6 separate regions of the Homo sapiens genome follow, and regions 1, 2, 3, 5 and 6 are each reported to be linked to region 4. Evidence: microRNA targets listed by miRTarBase, many of them from high-throughput screens and not tested one by one. Region 4 holds a microRNA gene; each other region holds the end of a gene's coding sequence.

Region 1 (3,540 bases), not on the chromosome of region 4:
TTTTATTTTTTTGTTTTGTAGATGCGGCCATCATGGTCTCTTGCTGTGCTATTTCTTGGTCAACTGTTGATTATCAAGTAGCTTTAAGAAAATCCTTGCCTGACAAAAAGCTTCTTAATGGATTATGTCCCAAAATCACATATCTCTTTTACAAGTTGTTTACATTATTATCGTGGATGCTGAGTGTTGTACTTCTACTATTCTTAAATGTTAAGATTGCTTTATTTCTGTTGTTATTTCTTTGGTTGTTAGGTATAATATGGGCATTTAAAAACAACACCCAGTTTTGTACTTGTATAAGTATGGAATTCTTATATAGGATTGTTGTTGGATTCATTCTTATCTTTACATTTTTTAATATTAAGGGACAGAATACCAAGTGTCCAATGTCTTGTTATTATATTGTTAGGGTACTGGGCACTTTGGGGATATTGACTGTATTCTGGGTTTGCCCCCTCACTATTTTTAATCCAGACTATTTTATACCTATCAGTATAACTATAGTTCTTACTCTTCTTCTTGGAATTCTTTTTCTTATTGTTTATTATGGGAGTTTTCACCCAAACAGAAGTGCAGAAACAAAATGTGATGAAATTGATGGAAAACCAGTTCTAAGAGAATGTAGAATGAGATATTTCCTAATGGAATAAGCTATTCATTTATGATATATATTTTCTTATATTTTGTTTCATTGGTTAGTAAAGAAAATGTGTGTTATGTGGGTGTGTTGTCTCTTATTTTTGCCACCTTTAATTTGAAATTAGTTCAGTGAAATAGGAGATACATAGTAGTATTTTATTTTTAAAATTAATTTCTCATTTGGTTTTGAAGATCTTGAGTACTCAGATATCTTTCTACTGCCTGGTAGAGCTGCCATCTTGAGCCTGAAATATAAGAAATGGTCTGGTTTTCATAATGAGAAGGCTGGAATTGAGCTTCCCTCCCATTTTCCTTGTTCCTGAACTAATACTACTGTACCTGTTATGGAGGACTGCAAAGGGAAGAGAAAAGCAGAACACTGTATTATTTTTTCCTTTATTGTCTTCAGTGCATATATTTGCAGTTGGGGACAGGTTGAGTAGAGGAAAAGGGAAAGAAGGGAAAGCAGAAAACAAATTTTTAGCATCTGCTGTGCTTTCATCCATGAAATCTCCAATTCAGTAAGTGCAAAAGAGAATTGGTGTGCATCTGAGAGGTCTGACATTTCATTATTTACTTATTTCCTAGCTTTTCTGAATTAATGCACTCTTAACATATAATTATATTAATCCTATTTGTGCTAGAATAGTTGTATCTAAATCATATTTTAAAATTATTTTTATTTTTAAAAAATTATGGTAAAAACATATAAAATTTACCATCTTAATCACTTTGAGTGTACAGTTCATCAGTGTTAACTGTATTCACCTTGTGCAACAGATCTCAAGGACTTTTTCACCTTGTAAAACTAAGATTCTCTATTTATTGAACAAATCCCCATTTCCTCCTTCCCCAAGTCTCTCTCAACTGAAATTATAATTTTTTGTTTCTATGAGTTTGAATACTTTAGATACCTTGTTGCCATGGTTTGAATGTGCCCCCCAGATTTCATGTGTGTGAAACTTAATCTCCAAATTTGTATGTTGATGGCATTTGGAAGTGGTGGGGACTTTGTTTATTTATTTATTTTTAATTTTTTAATTTTATATTATTATTATTATTATTATACTTTAAGGTTTAGGGTACATGTGCACAATGTGCAGGTTAGTTACATATGTATACATGTGCCATGCTGGTGTGCTGCACCCATTAACTCGTCATTTATCATTAGGTATATCTCCTAAAGCTATCCCTCCCCCCTCCCCCCACCCCACAACAGTCCCCAGAGTGTGATGATCCCCTTCCTGTGTCCATGTGTTCTCATTGTTCAGTTCCCACCTATGAGTGAGAATATGCAGTGTTTGGTTTTTTGTTCTTGCGATAGTTTACTGAGAATGATGATTTCCAGCTTCATCCATGTCCCTACAAAGGACATGAACTCATCATTTTTTATGGCTGCATAGTATTCCATGGTGTATATGTGCCACATTTTCTTAATCCAGTCTATTGTTGTTGGACATTTGGGTTGGTTCCAAGTCTTTGCTATTGTGAATAGTGCTGCAATAAACATACGTGTGCATGTGTCTTTATAGCAGCATGATTTATAATCCTTTGGGTATATACCCAGTAATGGGATGGCTGGGTCAAATGGTATTTCTAGTTCTAGATCCCTGAGGAATCACCACACTGACTTCCACAATAGTTGAACGAGTTTACAGTCCCAGCAACAGTGTAAAAGTGTTCCTATTTCTCCACATCCTCTCCAGCACCTGTTGTTTCCTGACTTTTTAATGATTGCCATTCTAACTGGTGTGAGATGGTATCTCATTGTGGTTTTGATTTGCATTTCTCTGATGGCCAGTGATGGTGAGCATTTTTTCATGTGTTTTTTGGTTGCATAAATAAATGTCTTCTTTTGAGAAGTGTCTGTTCATGTCCTTCGCCCACTTTTTGATGGGGTTGTTTGTTTTTTCTTGTAAATTTGTTTGAGTTCATTGTAGATTCTGGATATTAGCCCTTTGTCAGATGAGTAGGTTGCGAACATTTTCTCCCATTTTGTAGGTTGCCTGTTCACTCTGATGGTAATTTCTTTTGCTGTGCAGAAGCTCTTTATTTTAATTAGATCCCATTTGTCAATTTTGGCTTTTGTTGCCATTGCTTTTGGTGTTTTAGACATGAATTCTGTGCCCATGCCTATGTCCTGAATGGTAATGCCTAGGTTTTCTTCTAGGGATTTTATGGTTTTAGGTCTAACATTTAAGTCTTTAATCCATCTTGAATTAACTTTTGTATAAGGTGTAAGGAAGGGATCCAGTTTCAGCTTTCTACATATGGCTAGCCAGTTTTCCCAGCACCATTTATTAAATAGGGAATCCTTTCCCCATTGCTTGTTTTTGTCAGGTTTGTCAAAGATCAGATAGTTGTAGATATGCGGCGTTATTTCTGAGGGCTCTGTTCTGTTCCATTGATCTATATCTCTGTTTTGGTACCAGTACCATGCTGTTTTGGTTACTGTAGCCTTGTAGTATAGTTTGAAGTCAGGTAGCGTGATGCCTCCAGCTTTGTTCTTTTGGCTTAGGATTGACTCGGCGATGCGGGCTCTTTTTTGGTTCCATATGAACTTTAAAGTAGTTTTTTCCAATTCTGTGAAGAAAGTCATTGGTAGCTTTATGGGGATGACATTGAATCTATAAATTACCTTCGGCAGTATGGCCATTTTCATGATATTGATTCTTCCTATCCATGAGCATGGAATGTTCTTCCATTTGTTTGTATCCTCTTTTATTTCACTGAGCAGTGGTTTGTAGTTCTCCTTGAAGAGGTCCTTCACATCCCTTGTAAGTTGGATTCCTAAGTATTTTATTCTCTTTGAAGCAATTGTGAATGGGAGTTCACTCATGATTTGGCTCTCTGTTTGTCTGTTATTGGTGTATAAGAATGCTTGTGATTTTTGTACATTGA
Region 2 (3,540 bases), not on the chromosome of region 4:
AAACTCAAGGGAGGATCCAAAAACTATGGGCACTAAAAAGGGGAGGGAAACCGCCAGAAGTGGCTCTGACCTGCTGCCGCTGCCACCACCTCTAAAGCCAAGAATGTAGAGCCTCTGCCCAGGGATCTGGATGCTCTCCTGAGTGTTGGAAGGGCAGCCTGGAAAGGCATTTGGTGGTGAAACACCGCTGCTCCAGACTTACGCTACCATCTATTGTTGGGGGCCCAGAGTCCTTGGATTCACTGCCAGGCCTTCTTCCAGATCTTTCTGTACCTGTGTGTTTGGGCTCCTACTCCCACCTCTCCCAGGCGCAGGGAGAGGACAAAAAGCATAAGGGACTCTGTTCAACCCAGCAAAAGTCAGTTTCCCAGTGGAGAGGCAAAGCCCCACCCAGAACATAAACATGCATGGGACCAAGGTTAGTGCCCAGACAGGACAGACTTGCACAGAACAAGAGGGCACAGTGGGATCCATGCGGCAATTACAGGAGCTTCCAGCACTAACAGAGGAGCCTTATCCCACCTTCATCACACACACTTAGATGGACACACACACACTCTCGCTCACACTCTCACACATGTGCACACATACACACACTCTCTCTCTCTGCAGCCACACTCAAATCTGCTAAACTCCTACAACCTCCCCCAGCAGGTCATTTGACAATTCTGCATCTTCCGCTCTCTGGTGCTGGGGCTCTGGTCAGAGGCGAGCCAATGTCTTATCATTAGAGAGATGTGGGATTAGGTAAGGGGCAGAGTCATGGCACTGCTCACACACCTTCCCGAAACTGGGGTCTATTCAGTTTTTTGACAAGATCAAAAGCAATTCTTAACTGGTCATTATTTTTTTTTAAGGTAATTAGAACACTATTGTTTATACAATATTGAAAAAATACAATTTTTTATTGTTTGAACTCAAATCACCACCCAGCACTTTAAGCCTACCCTAAATAGCACCTACAATAAATGTCATAGCACAAGCAAACTGCAAAGTCAGCAGGTAAGCAAGTTAGACAGTGCCAGCAGAGAGACCCTCCCTCCCCCAAAGCAATGAGAAGACAGCGTGCTAGGTAAGAGTGAAGTACACCATTACATGTTAAATAGTTAATACTACCCTTCCAGCAAGCCACAGATGCTAGATGGATAACTCAGTACGGTTAACTAACCACAGCCCTACATCACTGCACTTTTTTTTTTTTTTAAAGAAAACCTTTTGCTTCATGCCCGTAATTAACATAAAGTAAGTAAATTCTTTGTCTTTTTATTTAGGAAAATAATCATGCTAAAAGCAAGTTGTACTTTATATAGATTTTCAAACAAAAGATTGATTGTGCTTTTTGAATAAAAAAGATAGGGTATCTTCCAACCTCACTGACTTAAACCTTGTGGAATACAGCACTTCTAAACTAAAAACACACGTCAAAAAGAAAAATTAAATAATCCCAGTGGGATGCTCAAAAATCGTCTTTAGAAGGTTTTAGGATTGGCTAATTCTGCTATTATCTTATTGGCTGCGGCAAAAAAAGAACACAGAGCTGCTGTCTAAAATTTCTCCAAACTCCCCTCCGAGTTCAGCAGGCAACACTCAGATTTGAAAGAAACTCTGCAGCAACCTGGACATATGGTTAGCTGAGTCGACATTTGATTAGCAGGCATTTTAAACTGATTTCCTCTTAACATACGCAGGAGAGAAAACATTTTCTTCCTGCAGGGCATGTTCTACTACATCATATTTCTGAATCCCTTCTTCCTATTCGGTCACTCTCTGAAAAAAGCTGGTTTGTTTTTCCCATGTAGAATCACTCTGGGTACAAGAACCTTTATTTGTTCCAATTATTATTTGTTTTAAATTTAGAACCTGTGTTGGGTCTAAAATACCCATTTCCCACTCCCACAAGCAGATGATGACCAGGCTGCTGCCAAGAGCAGCAGAAAAAGGGAAAACCAAACCAGAACATGAAGGCAAGTACCCAGGGCTTTGCAGTCACCACGTGGGTCGTCTTCTCAAGTCTAATGGTCCATGAGCGGCTTGTCCAAGGAGGCGGCCGCCTCTTGGTAGGTGAAGATGAAATCTGCAACCTTTCTAAGCACAATACACACACACACACACCAAAAAAATAACCCCCCCAGAAACACAACCCTCATATTTAAAGCTCTTAAGTTCAGGGTAGCGGTCTCAAACTGCCAAACACTAGGATGAGGATGTGACTCTGCATGTGTTTTGGATGAGAGGAAGCATCGTCCCAGTCACTTTTCTCCTCCTGTGCTGTCCTTTCAAAAACAGGTCTGGATTTCACGCTCTACCCCAAGAAAAAGAACTGGTTCAGAAAACACTTCCCCAAGTTTCTCCAACAGAACACTGTGGCTGCAGGGCCTGGTAGTGTGAAGGGCAGCAACTGACATATAAAAATGTACTTAAAATCAGAGTCAAAAAATGGTTTTAAGTTTTAATACTCTTAATTAGCTCCCTGCTTTATACTGTAACTCCACAGAAGACATAGGGCCACCTAGGATTCACAGGAAGGAGCAGCTCTGATTCTTACATGGCTGGCTCCGATGCCCCCACAGCAGGCCTCTTCCTCCCCAAGTTTTTCCTCTCCATTTCAAAAAAGCACTATTTTATCTTCACATCCAAGAGCTGGTTGGTTTGGTTTGTTTCTTTGGAAACCAATAAAAGAAGCAATTTTTTCCTGTTCTTTTTACTCACATCTACCTATCAGAGCGGCTATTTCCTTCGACAGTTCAGTAGCACACAGGCTGACTTGGCCACATGGACTCATGAATGCATGCATTCAGACCGCATATTGCTACCAAATGGAATGTGGGAATATGCTATGCACCTCAGGTTGAGAAATGACCAAGAAATCAAGATCTAAAGGGTGATATATAATATATATATATCAATGCTATTATTCATAAAAACCTTGTTTAGTAATAAAAAAAATTGCTTTGTTTAAATATGAATATTATAGTCTGCTTCTCATGGTTAGGAAATAATAGTCTTTCTGAAAAGCAGGTGCTTTTTCTACTACAACTCCATATCCTGGGCCTCATCTTCGGAAAAGTCAGACATAGAGCTCTCCGATGAGCTGTCCCCGGTACCCTCTTCCTGTTCTTTCAGCGCCTCCTCCGTGGCGTATTTCTGGATGTACTCTGCACGGGGTGGGAGAAAGACAACAAGGGCAGTGAGTGGGCAGGCATGTGCTTTGGCGACCCCAAAAAGCTGGCAAGGCTGCGGAGGTTCAAACTTACCTTGAACACCAGGGGGGACAAAGATGACAGTAATCATGATCACTACAGCTAAGGAGAATCCCATAGGGAGACTTCTTTGGGACAGGGTTTCTGCATTTTGCCCCCTGAGGAAAGGGGTATTGGGAAGAGCAACACAGCAGGCTCAGCTTGCAGGGGAATGTGTGTGCTGCAGCACCCCAAGAACTCTTCAGGGACCAGGGAAATGGGAGCCCCACGCTTTCTTTTTACTTTCATCTCCCAGATAGTATAGGACCAGTCATGATTCCATAGTAATTTATAAGGAAAT
Region 3 (3,540 bases), not on the chromosome of region 4:
ATTGTTTGTTAGGACTTAGAACCAGAAGAGCCTTGAGACCTAACTCTGGATGTTCACGCATGTGTGTGATGCCTACAATTAATTACAGGCATCTTTATTTCACAGTAACATCGGCACATTTTCTTAACATCTCACCGATGTTAGATGGGTTAGAGGTGGGAATGACATTCACGTGCCTCTAAAAATGTGCAGTGCCTTTTCTAAAACACTATATTTGGAGACTATAATTTTAATCAAGTGATGTCTAAGTTACAGAGCGCCTGTCTGGATTGCTTTATTCTGCAGGTGGATACAAAGTGTATCATGTTTCAGTGCTAGAAAACAGTGAGACACAAGGAGGCATCTTTCTTATCACTGAGGCATCTGTTAAATATCTACCCTTTCCTTTGGTACTTCTACTTCTTTGTATCCCTGGGGAAGGCAATTAACATTAATGCTTCTGTAACAGAGGCACAGAGCAATAGCCGACAAGATTTGACTGGTAGATCTAAAGTTATTGCTGGGCTCTGCTGGCGTGGGGCTGCATCCTACACAATTTTTCCCATCTCCACTTAAAGTAGAGGAGGTGAAGAGATAGAGGAAAAGTAGAAGAAACCTTTCACATTAATACATCTCCTTTTAAAAATAAAATTGAGAAAAACACAGACCACTGCTTCCTATGTTAATATCTTGGATTGTAATGTACTGTTGAAATCCTTTTTTTTTTTCCTTCCCTTTTTAAGAGTAAACCATCACGGTGGTTCTCTGCTGGGTAAGAAGCCATGGTAGAAAACTCAGTTCATGACGAATCTGTTCTTTCTACTGTGGCTCCCAACAAAACTCTCTGAAAGTTGTCTACTGTGGTTAGCCACAGAAACCTTTATTTTATGATATTTTTCAGAGAGATCATGATTCAGTTGTTTCTACAAATCATAGCAAATCATCTTTCAGGCAAGTTGAAAAAAATAAATCATCAGAAAAATATGTTTTCAGCAGTCCAGAAAATTATTAAAATCTAGTAGTTGCATCTGTAGCAACTACTAGGATTTAAAAAAAATCCTAGGTTAGGCTCTCTTCTATAGAATACTCCTAGAATATTACTGCCAATGATTCAGTAGCCATATGCTAGTAAAGCAAGCTATATTTGTTGGTCCATGTAAAATATGAGTAGAAAGACGGCATAAATGAGATTGTTACATGTTTCTCCCTGTGTTCCTGGGGGATAGGTGTTGGTGACAGAATTACAACTCTACTACTTTTTCCTGCTCACTATAGAATTAACTTCCAAATTTGAAGGATGACAACCTAATTATAGGTTATGGAGAATTAGAGCTCTCACTTTTTTCTGATTTTTCTCTTTGGTTGATTACAGAGAATTGGTTGAAGCTCACAGTTTTGATGCCAACTTCCAAAGAGATAATACTTACCTCCAGCTTCACAGGGCCATGCATGGCATGACCCCCACGGGTGCCATTCAGATCATACATGCGAGGGGTGCCCCTTGGGGTTATTACTTTGGCAACCCACATGCAAAACTTCATGTGTGCCCAGGACAAACATTTTCATTAACCAGAAATAAAGTCCATGGTCAACGTGTATTTTGTCTTTTTTTTTTTTTTTAGTCTAAAGAAAGTTCTGAACAGAATATCAATTAAGCTTACATCACAAAAACTTTAAATGTATTTACAGAGTGAATAAGTTACATAGATAAACTCTGAATATGTTTCTGCAGTGCAACAAGTTCACATGCACACATCTAACACTTGACAGCATTAAGTTTAAGGAGAGAACTTAAGAATGGCCCTTTACATATATATTACACATAAAATATGACATCGAAGAAACAAAGTAACAACTCATATTTTACCTTTATGATTCTACTTCTGACTATCCAAACAGATATTAAAATATGCATGCCTGACAGGTGAAAAGACTTGGAATTTATCTTGTGAATAGTTTTCTCTACAAAACGGCAAAGTTAATTAAAATTAACACTCATCCTTCAGCAGTATAAATATGCTCATAAAAGCAACCTTCTAGTAAAAAGCAGCCAAGATCCTTAAAAAGAGTCTATCTGGACCATTTTTGGTGCAAAGAGATCCAGGGCTTTCAGAAACAGTAGCCTAGCAACATAAGAAAGGTACTTCATAGCAGCTCCTTTTAGATACAGTAATTGTATTCAAATTACAGTGTACATTACATTGCAGTCCATTTACAATTCCCTTTTCACATACACAGGCTGTCAGCTTTTGACCATCTTACAGTTTTCAGTGGCCAGCTTCATTTTGCCTGCCCCTTTCTCAGCCCACGAAAGAAAGGAAAAAGAAAAAAGAAAAAAGAAAAGAAAATGGAACAAGACAGGGAAAGAATATACATGTTTGAGAATATAAAATTTTTTGAGTGAAGAAAACATTGCACTTTTGCCAATCTAAAATTGTTTCTAGAAAGGAAGGTACTGTTCAGTGTAGTCGGCTTTGGTATGCAACGGAAGTCACTTCTTCAGTAGCGAGTTGCATATGCTCGGTCAAATGTAACACATTTGTGCCACACAGCATGATGAGTGGAGTCTGTCCAGGACGTTCTAAGCTACCTTGGTTCTTATAGTATTGCTACACGTTGGAAGTTCTGCCATCCTCTTTAGAAAAAGCCCTACAGGTAACAAGAGGGAGAACAGTCTGTCCAAGCCTTTTGAAGGCCGAGAAGACACTGAATGACGTTGCCCCAGCATGGCAGCACTGCCAGTTTGGAACCCAGTGGGGACAGGAGGCTCCTGTCAGAGACTAGTGCCAGAAACACTGGAGTCTGGAAGAAAAGTAGTGAGGACTCGGTAACTCTGGGCCCTGCGGATCATGTCCCGGATCTCCATGTTCAGCTCCATCAGCTTGGTGCAGATCTCGGTCAGGCTCTGGTTAGACCCCACCAGGGCATAAGTACCCGTCTGTCCCAGAGTTTGGTGACGGAAATAAATATTCAGTAGTGTCTGGACCTCATCATCAGAACTGCTTCCAAAGATGTCATTGGGCCACAGACTTCTGCAGTCAAAAAGAACAGCACAGATTAGAGGCACTATTAGTCACAAAGTTGGGAGCTTATGAGTCTTCATTAATATAAGAGTATTACTTTTTAAAAAGGCTTTATTGAGATGGAATTCCTGTATCAGGTAATTCACTCATCTAAGGTAAACAATTCAGTGGGTTTTAGTATCTTCAGAGTTGTGCAAACATCACCATAATCAATTTTAGAATATTATTTTGGTAAAATATCAAAAGTATAAAAATATCAGAATGGAATCTGACACTCCTAAAACATTTACCTTATTTGCTATAGCCTTCTGGTTTCAATGAATGTGAATACAATATCAGAATGTAGGGGCAAAACCAAAAAGAATATATTCAAATGTTAGTTAAAAATTATATAAAGGTATATTTTGAAGTGCTTCAGCATTTTGTCATTTTAGGGACGACAAATGGCCAGAACCAACACCAACACTTTCAATATGTAGTGTTCTGAAAGCTGAGTGTTTCTGGTTTGGCAGCAGTAAAGATCTGAGAAGAGATCTGT
Region 4 (3,540 bases):
CGGTACATAGGTAACCAAAGTATAGAGCTTATTTGGTGAATCTTCATCCTTATTCTGGATAATCGCACACGGATTCGGTATGAGACATTCCTTATTCCTTTGGCCCAGACAGCTTTGTTGAGCCTGGTAGCAACGCACATGTCTGGAGCTACCATCTCCTTCATGGCAAATTTCCGAATCTCTTTGAGTGCCCAAGGGGCACACTTCTTGAAGCGCACTCCATGGGTGCGCTTGTGAATGTTGATGGTGTATTCTTGGGTCACCACCTCGTTGATAGCAGAACGGCCCTTTTTCTTTTGGCCACCCTTCTTTGCGGAAGCCATTCTGTTGGGTCCAAGTTGGAAAGGCAATATTTTATTTTATTTTATTTTTTTAAGACAAGGTCTCACTCTGTCACCTGGGCTGAAGTGCAGTGGCACAATGGCACAATCAAGGCTCACTGTAGCCTCAACTTCCCGGGCTCAAGCGATCCTTCTACCTCAACCTCCCAAGTAGCTGGGACTACAGGCATATGCCTCCACACTCAGCTAATTTTTTTTTCTTTCTTTCTTTTTTTTTTTTTAGAGATGGGGTCTAGTCTGGTCTCGAACTCCTGGACACAAGGAATCCTCCTGCCTGGATTACAGGCATGAGCCCAGCCTATTAATAAATTAGATAAATCTTTGAAGCAGGCTTACTATATGCTTGTATGAAAGTTATCTTTTTAATTTTTTGAAATTTGTACTTTGACATCAATAAGAGTTACTGCCTCCTATATTACCTCTCTGTTATTATTCTCCCTCAATCTCCTTGTTACCCAGACTTGAAATATTGGCACCTGCTCCAGTTCCTTTCTTACTCTCTAAACAAATCAGTCCTCAAATCTCACTGGTTTTACCTCCAAGGTTCTCTTGGTGCCATCCCCATGATTAACGTCAGAGTTTAAGCTTCTATTCCCTCTCTCCTGAACTTTTACAATAGCCCTTACTTGGATCTCTGTAACCACTGCGCTCAAGGCTACTAGAAAAATATCCCCAAGGAAAAGCTCCGATCATTTCACTCCCCTTCCTAAAACTCGTTGGGGGTTCTTCATTACCCAACAATAATGGAAAGGCCCAGTTCCTTAGCTTGATTTTCAAAGCCTTCCAAAATTTGATCTCGAGCTTATATTCCTTAACTACTCTGTCCTTTCCTGCTCCCTTCATTCACTGTGCCTATGCACACTTTCTTTGCCTTCCTTCATACCACCCTACTGCCTGAATACTTTCTGCCCTGTATCTGCATGTCCAAACCGAAGTATAGTTTAACCCCATCTTGAAGCTCCACTGTAGTGATCCTTTAAACTGAAAGTTATTTCTCTCTGCTCCGAATTAGCAACATATTTAATTTGTATCTCTTCTATAACACATATCTCTTTCTATTTTGTAACATAGTTCTTTGTGGACATTACTGTGGTATCATTGTAGGATAGCGTCTATAATCTAACTTTGTATCCACAGTATTGCCTAACTGTGCTAATACCGATAAGAGGGCCAGTGAAAAATTGTTTAGCAGGAACTGCTGAAAAAAATTAAACTCTGAACTGAAAAAGTAGTACTGAGGCAGGATAGGCAGTCAAGGAAGTGCCCATATCCTCAGGACGCAGCAACCATGGTGACCCCAACAGTCAACACAATAAGCCTCAGCATTTGAATTGTGATTGAACTCAGTCGAGCAAAGCTATCTTCAGTAGGAAATTTCTTCTATAGAGAGCATGAGCACTTTGATTTTACCTGTCCTCAAACTGACCTTTTGCTCATTATAATAGCAAAAAACATGCCCTTGGGTGGAGATTTACAATGCTAATGGGACACCTGAGGGAGGAACATGGGTGCACAGCTACTGCACATGTGCAGCCAGAGGACCAACCAGAAGATGCTTACTACTAGGTTGGTGCAAAAGTAATTGTGGTTTTTGCATTTAAAGTAATGGCCAAAACCGCGATTACTCTTGCACGAACCTAACGGTAACACTTCTTCCCACCTCCTTATGAATAATCATGCAAATAATACATGATTAGCAATAACCTCCAGCAATAATCAATGTTGTCTCATCCTTACGAGCAGCCTGCCCTGAATTCTCTCTCTCTCTCAGGGTGTGATGTCTATTTTGTACTTAGCTTTCAAAATTTTTTTTTCTTTTGCAATAAATTATGCTGCATCTCTTTTGCTGTATGTCTCTTGTTTAAATTCTTTTAAACTAAGAAGACAAGAACCAAGGTCTTGCAACAGCCTCCAACACTACCACATTATTTTTTGAATGGCTGAAGTCCCATCAAATTATGTTCCCCAATCGCTCTCTCTTCTTGTGAATGTTTTTCTTTCTTTTTTTAAAAAATTAAATATCTAATTTTAAAGGAGAACAGTGAATATTCTTTAAAACCTAAATTTAGTGTATCTTCCTTTCTTCTTTTTGTCGTATTTTTTTCACCATACGTAAGATTTCTCATTTCAACATAGTGAGTCCCACCATTTGACTATTGCAAGTTGTTTTATTCATTAATGAGGGTGACAGTTTTCTGTGTGAATATGCCCATCAAAAGAGTTTCCTATACAAGTATTTGCTCATGAAGCACTAACATTTTTATTTGGTCTTTCAATTTATGAAGAAAATGTAAGGGATGCCCATTTCTTTACCTGGGTGAAATATTAGTCTCTAAATCCCAGGCACCCCCAAATCAATCAGAGCAAAGAAAATATGGCACGTCTACTGTCTACTACACAATGGCTTTCACTTTTATCACATTATAAAACAGTGTTTCTCTATGTGGATGGATTTCTTCCCAGATTCACATGAAGAGCTTGTTACGAAAGTATATTCCCAAGCCCCATCTACATTCAGAATCTTTGGGGCTAGATCTCCAAGAATCTTCCTTTTTAATTAATCTCACAGATGATTCTTCGCCATGTTGGAGTTTATGAATCACAGGCTAAATTTGTGTCTTCTTCTAAAAATGCAAAGAGAAGCAGAGACCCCTAGAGAATTGCATAAGTGTGCCCTAAACAAACCAAGAGGGTTGACGAAGTCTGTTCATCTTCTCTCTTGTCTCAAAGTATCCTTGTTTCTTTGTAACTTCCTCCCAATACTTTATTTTGAAAATGTTCAAACATACAGAAATGCTGAAATAATTGTACAGTGGACACCCGTATACTTCACCTAAATATTACCATTAATATGTTACTGCAGTTGCTTTATTAGAGATCCTTGTTGTTGTTGTTTTTTTAACAATGATTTTTTTTTTTGAGACGGAGTCTCGGTCTGTCGCCCAGGCTGGAGTGCAATGGTGTGATCTCGGCTCACTGCAAGCTCCGCCTCCCAGGTTCACGCCATTCTCCTGCCTCAGCCTCCCGAGTAGCTGGGACTACAGGCGCCCGCCACCACGCCCGGCTAATTTTTTGTATTTTTAGTAGAGATGGAGTTTCACCGTGTTAGCCAGGATGGTCTTGATTTCCTGACCTCGTGATCCGTCCCCCTCGGCCTCCCAGAGTGTTGGGATTACAGGCGTGAGCTACCGCGACCGGC
Region 5 (3,540 bases), not on the chromosome of region 4:
AGGGAGCACACAGCAGGTCCGCTCAGCAGCCACGCACGTCCACAGACACTCCCGACTCACGCCCACCGTGGGACACATTAGTGCAAAATGCTCGGCCTGGCCCGCCCGGGGCGCAGGGAGAGCTCAGAACCCATTCACATTAAATTATTATTATTTAAGTTTTATCTATAGCTCTTGCCTTCCTTACCCAGAACAAAACAGACGGCGATTACAAACGAGTGAGGAAGGGGCACGGGACATTGTGCGGGCCTGAACAGCAGTCAGGCGTCCTCTGTGCAGCCACCACCTCCGGCAGCAGCCAGCGGCTCCCTCCCTGTCCTGGCCAAGGGTGGGGGGGCACCCACTTTGGAGTGGAGGGCAGAGAGAGCCCTTCTGTCAGCAGCCAGGCCCCCAGGGATGGTCAAATTAAAGTGCAAATTTGGGTGTGGGGCAGATGAAGGAAACTCCAGAGGGAACTCAAGTGCAGCTCAACCTCACCTACCTGCCCCTGCTCCACCCCGCGGCTTCCTCCCATCTCCGAGGAAGGCTTGGTCCAGGTTCCCAGCGGGCCCCATGGGGGCTCCAACCCCACCTGTGCCCAAGACAGGGGAGGAAGAGGCAGAGAAAGGCTCCCTCTAGGCTGGGTGGTTCTTAGTTCAGCAGAAGGTCTGGATGCCTCTGCACCACTGAGCCACCTGCAGCCCTAGGAATGCAGGTCTTGGTCCCCCTGGACGTGGGCCCTGAGGAATGGGTGGAGGGGCCGAGGTTAGCGTCCACAGTGCCTGCCCATGGTCCCCCACCTCCTTCTGGAAAGCAACGTATTTTTCTGGAGGGCAGGCATGTGCTGGGCCTGGCTGGAGGCAGCCCAGGAGGCTGAGTGCTGTCTGTAGAGGCGGCCCCACGGGAGGTCTCCTAGGGCCTCGCCACAGGGGTGGGCTTCGGGGCAGAAAGGAGCCGCCCAGTGGGAATGCGTCTAACCCACACCCTGTAGGTCCCCAGGCCAGGGTGCAGCACATGGTCCTCCCCTAGCGGAGGCGGCCTCCGCTTGATGGGTTGTGGAGGTTGGGGGAGTGGGGTGCGCTGGTCGGCCACCGCTCACTGGCCTGTGTGCACACCGGAGGGGGTGCTGATGGGCGCAGGGCTGCACTTGTTTTGCAAGTGAAGATGGGGAAGCCGAGTTCTGGAGGGACAGAGGTGAGCAACAGACATTTCAAGTCTTGGGATGGGGGGTTCTTCTGGCCACACCTGGGAAGGAGGGCTGCCCCTGGACAAGGACACAGGCCTCCAAAACAAAAGGGAGGGACACCTGGGTAGGTGGCCACACCAGCACTTCACACAGGACTTCACACAGTCTGTGAGCCCTACCACTTAAAAAACAGTAATTAAATTTCAAAGGAAGCACTCCAGCCTCAAACCAAACAGCCCCATCTTCCATGGGCCCTTCCTCCACTGTCCCTGGCCCCCCAACATGATCCCTAACCCTCTGTCCCCTACCAGTGCCCATACCTCCAACTGCCCCAGCCCAGGCCTGTCCCGGTCATCCCCTGCCTGCAGCCTCAGGCACCCTCCATCCATGCACACCCCTCAAGGCAGACGGGGAGCCCAGCACCGGGAGGACCGACTCTCGCCCTGGCCCAGCCCTGGCCGCTGCCTCCTGCCCGAGCGGAGTCCCCCGCTCCCCAGGTCCGGCCCTGAGCTCAGCTTCACACGTACTAGTCGCCCACCCGGGACCCCCTTTTTCCCCCAGTGGGAGACGAGTGGTCCCTGGCCCTGGGCGGGGGAGCAGGGGGACGCACCCTAACGGCCACAGATGACCCACCCCAAGCCATGGTGGGCTGGGGACAGGGACACCCATCCCACCCAAAGTTTTTGTTCTATTGAGTCTGAAAGTTTCCAAACCATATATGAAATAGATCTAAATTACAACAAAACCTAAAAAAAACAAGACAAGCATAATCCCAAAGTGGCTGAGGCGGCAGAGGGCAGCGTGTGCTACATCAGCTGTGCACGTCCCACAGTGGGCCCGGGCGGGACAGTGGGAGGCCAGGCGGGGTCAGCGGTGCCCTGGGGGTCAGGGGACCGAGGGGCTGCAGAGCCGAGACGGATCGGGCAGAACAAGGACAGGGTGTGGGGGCAGAGTAAAGTACCCTTTTCTCCACCCCGAGGGGTGGGCCACAGCCATCACTGCCCCCTCACCACACCCCTGCACACACACGCACACACACACACTCGTGCACACACCCCACACAGGTGGAAGGCCCGGTGGGCCTGGCCCCGAGTCTCCGAAAGAAGGAAAAACGAGGAGTTAGGCCCTGGAGCCTGAGCCCTGCCCCGTCGCCCCAGAGAGGTTCCATGGGGAAGGAAGGAAGGGTCAGTGACGCACAGCCCAGCCCCCTCGCCACAGACCACCGCCGGCCCCTGCTTCGTCTTCCGGGCAGGAGGAGCAGGAAGGGCAGGGAGGAAGGGGCAGGGCTGGGCACCAGGGGCCTGGCGGCCTCCCACCCTCCCCAAGAAGGGGGAGGGAAGCTACACTTGGAGGCTGACCTTGTGAATATCAAAAGGGAGCCCTGGGAACTTCCTCGCAGGAGGCTGCCAGTGGCCTAATTGTTTACAGTATAATGAATGCATTTGTTTCCTTCATCAATTTTAAATACAAGCAGAATAAAAATCACATTTTTCTCAGGCAACAGTAGCAGTTCAGTAGGTAAGTGGCTTGATCACATTTGTTTGTATTAGTAACGCATGCAAGCAGCTCTAGTACTCGGTCCCTCGCGCAGCCACCCAGCTCCGCTTACAAGGTCCCTGCATAGGTGCCCTCCGGCCTCCGGGCCGCGGCCGCCGGCGTCTGGGGCCTGCTGGGGCCGCCCCCGCCCTGCTCAAAGGGCTGTGGGGGGCTCTGGCCATCGGCGGGCAGCGGCTCGGGGGCGGCCACCTCCTGGATGACCGAGCCAGCCCCGTCCACCTCCTCGCCGGCGTCGAAGGCGGGGTTGGCGGCGGCACTCAGGTCAACATTCACGGCGTCAGTTCTCAGAGCCACGATGGTGGCGGCGTCGCCCCGCCGCTCGGCGTAGATGCGTTGCTCGAACACCTGTGCCGCGGCAGGCGGGAACTCGGGGTCGAGGGGCACGCTGGCGGCGGCGGAGCCCATGACCGTGCGGTACATCTCCACGCCCTCCGGCAGCATGGACTTGATCTTGGGCAGCCAGCGCTTGCGAACGCGGCGGGCGTTGGTGCACATGTCCGCGGCGATCACGTTCATCTCGCTCTCCTTGAAGCTGGGGGCGAAGTTCTGACAGTACACTGTGAGGACGGGGCGGCGTGAGCTCAGCCACCTGCCTGCCGGGAGGCCCGCCCCTCCCCAAGGCCACAGAACCATGATGCCCTGGATGAGCCTCCCCGGCCGCTCCTGGGGCCCATGTGACCACCTGGGGCTCTCCTGGCCTCAGCCAGAAGACCAGAGGTCACGTTTCTCACTGCTCGGCCTGGGAGGCCTCCCCACCCCATTCCTCTGGAACAGTCTCTGGCCTGGTCAGGCCCAGCAGCCTTGGCCGTCCGCCAGCT
Region 6 (3,540 bases), not on the chromosome of region 4:
AATATAAAAGTCTGGTACTAATTTCCTAAAGTTTTAAACTGAAATCTCTTTAAACAATAGGTCACTTTTTAAAAGGCCTTCTATATTTGACATAATATTATTAATGGGAACAATAAAAAACAATACATTTGTGAAAACTAAGAAGTAACTGAATATAAATATCTTTATTAATTTAAAATCAGATTCTACAGAAATATTTTATCACCAATAGAATACCTGTGTAAAAAACTAAAATTGAAATTTGAAAATAAAATGCACTAATTGTATGACAATTTTAAAATTCATTAATGTAAGGATTGAGCGCTAAAGATGGAGGAATAATTTGTTGGCATATAGAACAACTTTTAATACTAAAATACATTAAGTTAGTGACTTACATTCGTTTACTAAAAGGGCATGAGGTCTTGGCAAATGTTTTTTATTCTGAATGATTGAGGAAAACAGAAAAATTGTTAAAATTTTAAAGAAATATTTTATACCTTGTAAAACATTACATTAACTTATGCATAAACTAAATACTACTGAAAAAGATTTAACTCTTTATTTTACAGAATTGATTGGTAATTGATTTAATGACTAAAATAGGAAAACTGAAAATGATAAATATAAGTTTGGACCATCTATGAAAGAACACTTTAAGTTCAAACTTTCAGAAAGACCCTGTGGTTGTTTTAAAAGGCAGCGAGGGTCACTTTGGTTGTGTAAGTAATTGTAATAAATCAGAAAATATAATTTAATAATCTAGTCAATGAGCTCTGTAGCCAGTGAGACCTAAAATTAATTACAGCTTTGAAACTCATAATGCATGACCTTTACAAAGTTACTTGGTGTCTACAACACCAGTTTACTAATCTAGATTGGGGAAAATAATTTATGAAGTATAATGTATATAAAACCCTTAACATACAACCTGGCACACATTAGTCCTCAATACATATTAGATATTTTAATTATTTTTAACACAATTGCCATTTTATTATTTCTAATTCATACTGAGTGTGTAAAATAACTAATGAGGTAGGAGTCTCATGTCAGTGTAGTACATCTTTTTTGCAATGTTTGTTTGGCTCAATTTTTTTTAGGTCGTCCTATTATTTATAATTAAGTTTAGATTTGCATTTTATGGAAACTACTTCATTATTACATTCTTAAAAAAATAAAATCTGCTTCAATTAAATATAAGTATGTGTATGAGAAATTATGTTTGACATTCACAATTTGATGTATCCATTAAAAATGCATTTTTAAAGTCTGGGCTAAATATAAAGTATTATTACATCTATAATGATTATAAAATTTCAAATTAATTCTTCATTGTCGTGATATTTATCGGTTTCACTCTAAATTATATTGATTAACAAACCTATTATGATGTATGCATGTGCTTGACTAATTCTCCACAGGCAATAATGTAAATACTTTAAGAAATCCTCAAACATATATTATATTTTGGGTTGCTTTTCACCCTGAATTATTCATGTACAGACAGTTCTACTTTGATTTTATTCTGTATTAACTTTACCTTGTTGCATCACATTTAATATTTACAATTTTCTACTAAAGGAGATGAGCTAGTAGAGAAACAGGAGACTAGCAACACATACCTTCTGTCATCAGAAAGTCACACGCCCCTTAGTGGAGAGGTCAGGTTACCTCTTAACGACACAAAAGACATCTGTGATCCGGTGAAACCCCGTCTCTACTAAAAATACAAAAACTTAGCCGGGTGTGGTGGCGGGCGCCTGTAGCTGCTTGGGAGGCTGAGGCAGGAGAACGGTTGAACCCGGGAGGCGTAGCTTGCAGTGAGCTGAGATCGGGAGCCACTGCACTCCAGCCTGGGCGACAGAGCGAGACTCTGTCTCAGAAAAAAACAAAAAACAAAAAACAGATATCTCTGATCTTCACAGACTGCCCTGTGAAAGCTCAGAGTGAGGCAAGAGTGCAAAAAGCAGATTCCTCATCAATGTATCACTTCGGATTTGAACAGGAAGTTTTCACACTAGGGCCATTTTGAATCAGTTTATCTCATCATACACCTCAGAATATAAGAGACTGAGCTGCTAGGGTGTCATTTAGTTTGTCCATTTTCAAGTGACTTTTAGAAATTATTTTTATAGTAAACAAGATTTGGGGAGAACAAAGACTACTACCCATGCAGTTGTTTCCATCTCAATCACAAACACTAAAATCTTATACCTTTTTCAGAGTCTCTTACATGTTTAACTTCTACATTTACACAGGGTGGCTAAAACTTGGGATTACGTACTTCTTTATCATATACCCCTATAATATCACTGCTAATATGACGATAAATTTTTAAAATAATAATCTTACCAATAGGAATTTAATGTATTTGTCACTAATTATTCTGAGAAAATACATTTCCACTTCATTGTAATTGACATCAATTCTCAAAGTTAAATTCCCAACTTACTTTCTTGATAGTTCTTAAAATTCTCTCATTCAGTTTTTTAAAAATAAATTAATCAGATAACTCTCATTGAAATATATGTCTCTGGGAAGAATAAATAATTAAAAAATATTGTACTATATCACCACGCCAGAGATTGAAATATATAAAAACCACTCATTATATTGTTCATTGATTTATTTTCCAATCATAACGGTCTGCATTTTAATATTAATATTTGTTGTAAATGACTAATGCTTAAATCAAACTATATAGAGAGGGAAAAGTAATTTTTAAAACATCATCTAGTTAAAAATAGGGAGGGCAGAAAAAGTAGATTTTTAAAACACAAGCTAAATGGTACATGAGCACTCAGGGGCGGTGGCTTGTGTCAGTAATCCCAGCAACTTGGGAGGCCAAGATGTGTTGATTTCTTGAGCTCAGGAGTTCAAGACCAGCCTGGTCAACATGATGAAACCCCGTCTCTACAAAAAAATACGAAAATTAGCCAGCATGATGGTATTGGCCTGTAGCCAGCTACTCTGGTTGCTGAGGTGGGAGGATCGCTTGAGCCTTGGAGGTGAGGTCGAGGCTGCAGTGAGCCGAGATGAAATTTACTGAAATTGGGGAAATATACTTCATAATGATAAATTAATTTTCCAAACCATTAGTAATATATTTTTTATCATTGCATATACCTAATGATACAAGTTCAACATATAGTTGAATAAAGTGAACAAGTAAACAATCATAAATGGGATTTTTAAAGACTCTTCTCTTGATGCTTAATACAAGACAGGCCAGTGAGCCTATAGAAAGATTTAAACTAGACAAGTAACCATCACTCATATGAATGCATTCACACACATATACTCACACGGATACTCAATTTCAATGTAGTACCGCTAGCCAAGCTTGGCTAGGAGACAGTTGAAATGTAGCTATTCAAATTTAACATTAATTAATAAAAATAAATAACATTTAAAACCAGTACCTCACCACATGAGCCACATTTATAAAGGGATGAAGAACATTTCCAGTTTAATAGAAAATGTTCTAACTATATTTTACCTACAACAGAAGTCAATAAACAAAAATCTGAGAACCTTATATGGTTTTTAATTCAGTAA

Evidence for each region. The annotated mature microRNA hsa-miR-548ay-5p reads AAAAGUAAUUGUGGUUUUUGC and lies in region 4 at 1,916-1,936, shown strand. An mRNA with a match to its seed (bases 2 to 7 or 8) in the 3' UTR can be bound and repressed. Matches are read on the target gene's strand: a 7mer-m8 pairs with bases 2 to 8, a 7mer-A1 pairs with bases 2 to 7 and ends in A, and an 8mer does both.
Region 1: the mRNA of XKR9 is a reported target of hsa-miR-548ay-5p. Seed matches in the 3' UTR shown: 7mer-A1 at 1,542-1,548 and 7mer-A1 at 1,706-1,712.
Region 2: the mRNA of UBE2H is a reported target of hsa-miR-548ay-5p. Seed matches in the 3' UTR shown: 8mer at 1,239-1,246.
Region 3: miRTarBase lists FRY as a target of hsa-miR-548ay-5p. Seed matches in the 3' UTR shown: 7mer-m8 at 1,825-1,831 and 7mer-A1 at 553-559.
Region 5: the mRNA of NACC2 is a reported target of hsa-miR-548ay-5p. Seed matches in the 3' UTR shown: 7mer-A1 at 2,119-2,125.
Region 6: miRTarBase lists KLRC3 as a target of hsa-miR-548ay-5p. Seed matches in the 3' UTR shown: 7mer-m8 at 2,694-2,700.

Annotation. Positions count from the first base shown.
Region 1 is chr8:70,733,775-70,737,314 of GRCh38, forward strand. It overlaps XKR9 (XK related 9), which reads left to right. Exons shown (of 5, transcript NM_001011720.2): 5 at 22-2,168. The coding sequence ends at 650. Among named protein-coding and RNA genes, the nearest start is that of XKR9, 66 kb to the left of the region's middle.
Region 2 is chr7:129,831,907-129,835,446 of GRCh38, forward strand. UBE2H (ubiquitin conjugating enzyme E2 H) reads right to left here. Exons shown (of 7, transcript NM_003344.4): 7 at 1-3,155. The coding sequence ends at 3,031. Among named protein-coding and RNA genes, the nearest start is that of MIR183, 59 kb to the left of the region's middle. RefSeq lists an enhancer at 2,755-3,414.
Region 3 is chr13:32,294,673-32,298,212 of GRCh38, reverse strand. It overlaps FRY (FRY microtubule binding protein), which reads right to left. Exons shown (of 61, transcript NM_023037.3): 61 at 1-3,011. The coding sequence ends at 2,753. Among named protein-coding and RNA genes, the nearest start is that of ZAR1L, 19 kb to the left of the region's middle.
Region 4 is chr3:32,504,738-32,508,277 of GRCh38, reverse strand. MIR548AY (microRNA 548ay) reads left to right here and starts at 1,889; the gene lies at 1,889-1,995. It also overlaps the pseudogene RPL31P18.
Region 5 is chr9:136,008,746-136,012,285 of GRCh38, forward strand. It overlaps NACC2 (NACC family member 2), which reads right to left. Exons shown (of 6, transcript NM_144653.5): 6 at 1-3,279. The coding sequence ends at 2,771. Among named protein-coding and RNA genes, the nearest start is that of UBAC1, 49 kb to the left of the region's middle.
Region 6 is chr12:10,409,722-10,413,261 of GRCh38, forward strand. KLRC3 (killer cell lectin like receptor C3) reads right to left here. Exons shown (of 7, transcript NM_002261.3): 7 at 2,594-2,895. The coding sequence ends at 2,851. KLRC4-KLRK1 (KLRC4-KLRK1 readthrough) reads right to left here and starts at 425. Exons shown (of 13, transcript NM_001199805.1): 1 at 378-425. It overlaps KLRC4 (killer cell lectin like receptor C4), which reads right to left and starts at 36. Exons shown (of 4, transcript NM_013431.2): 1 at 1-36.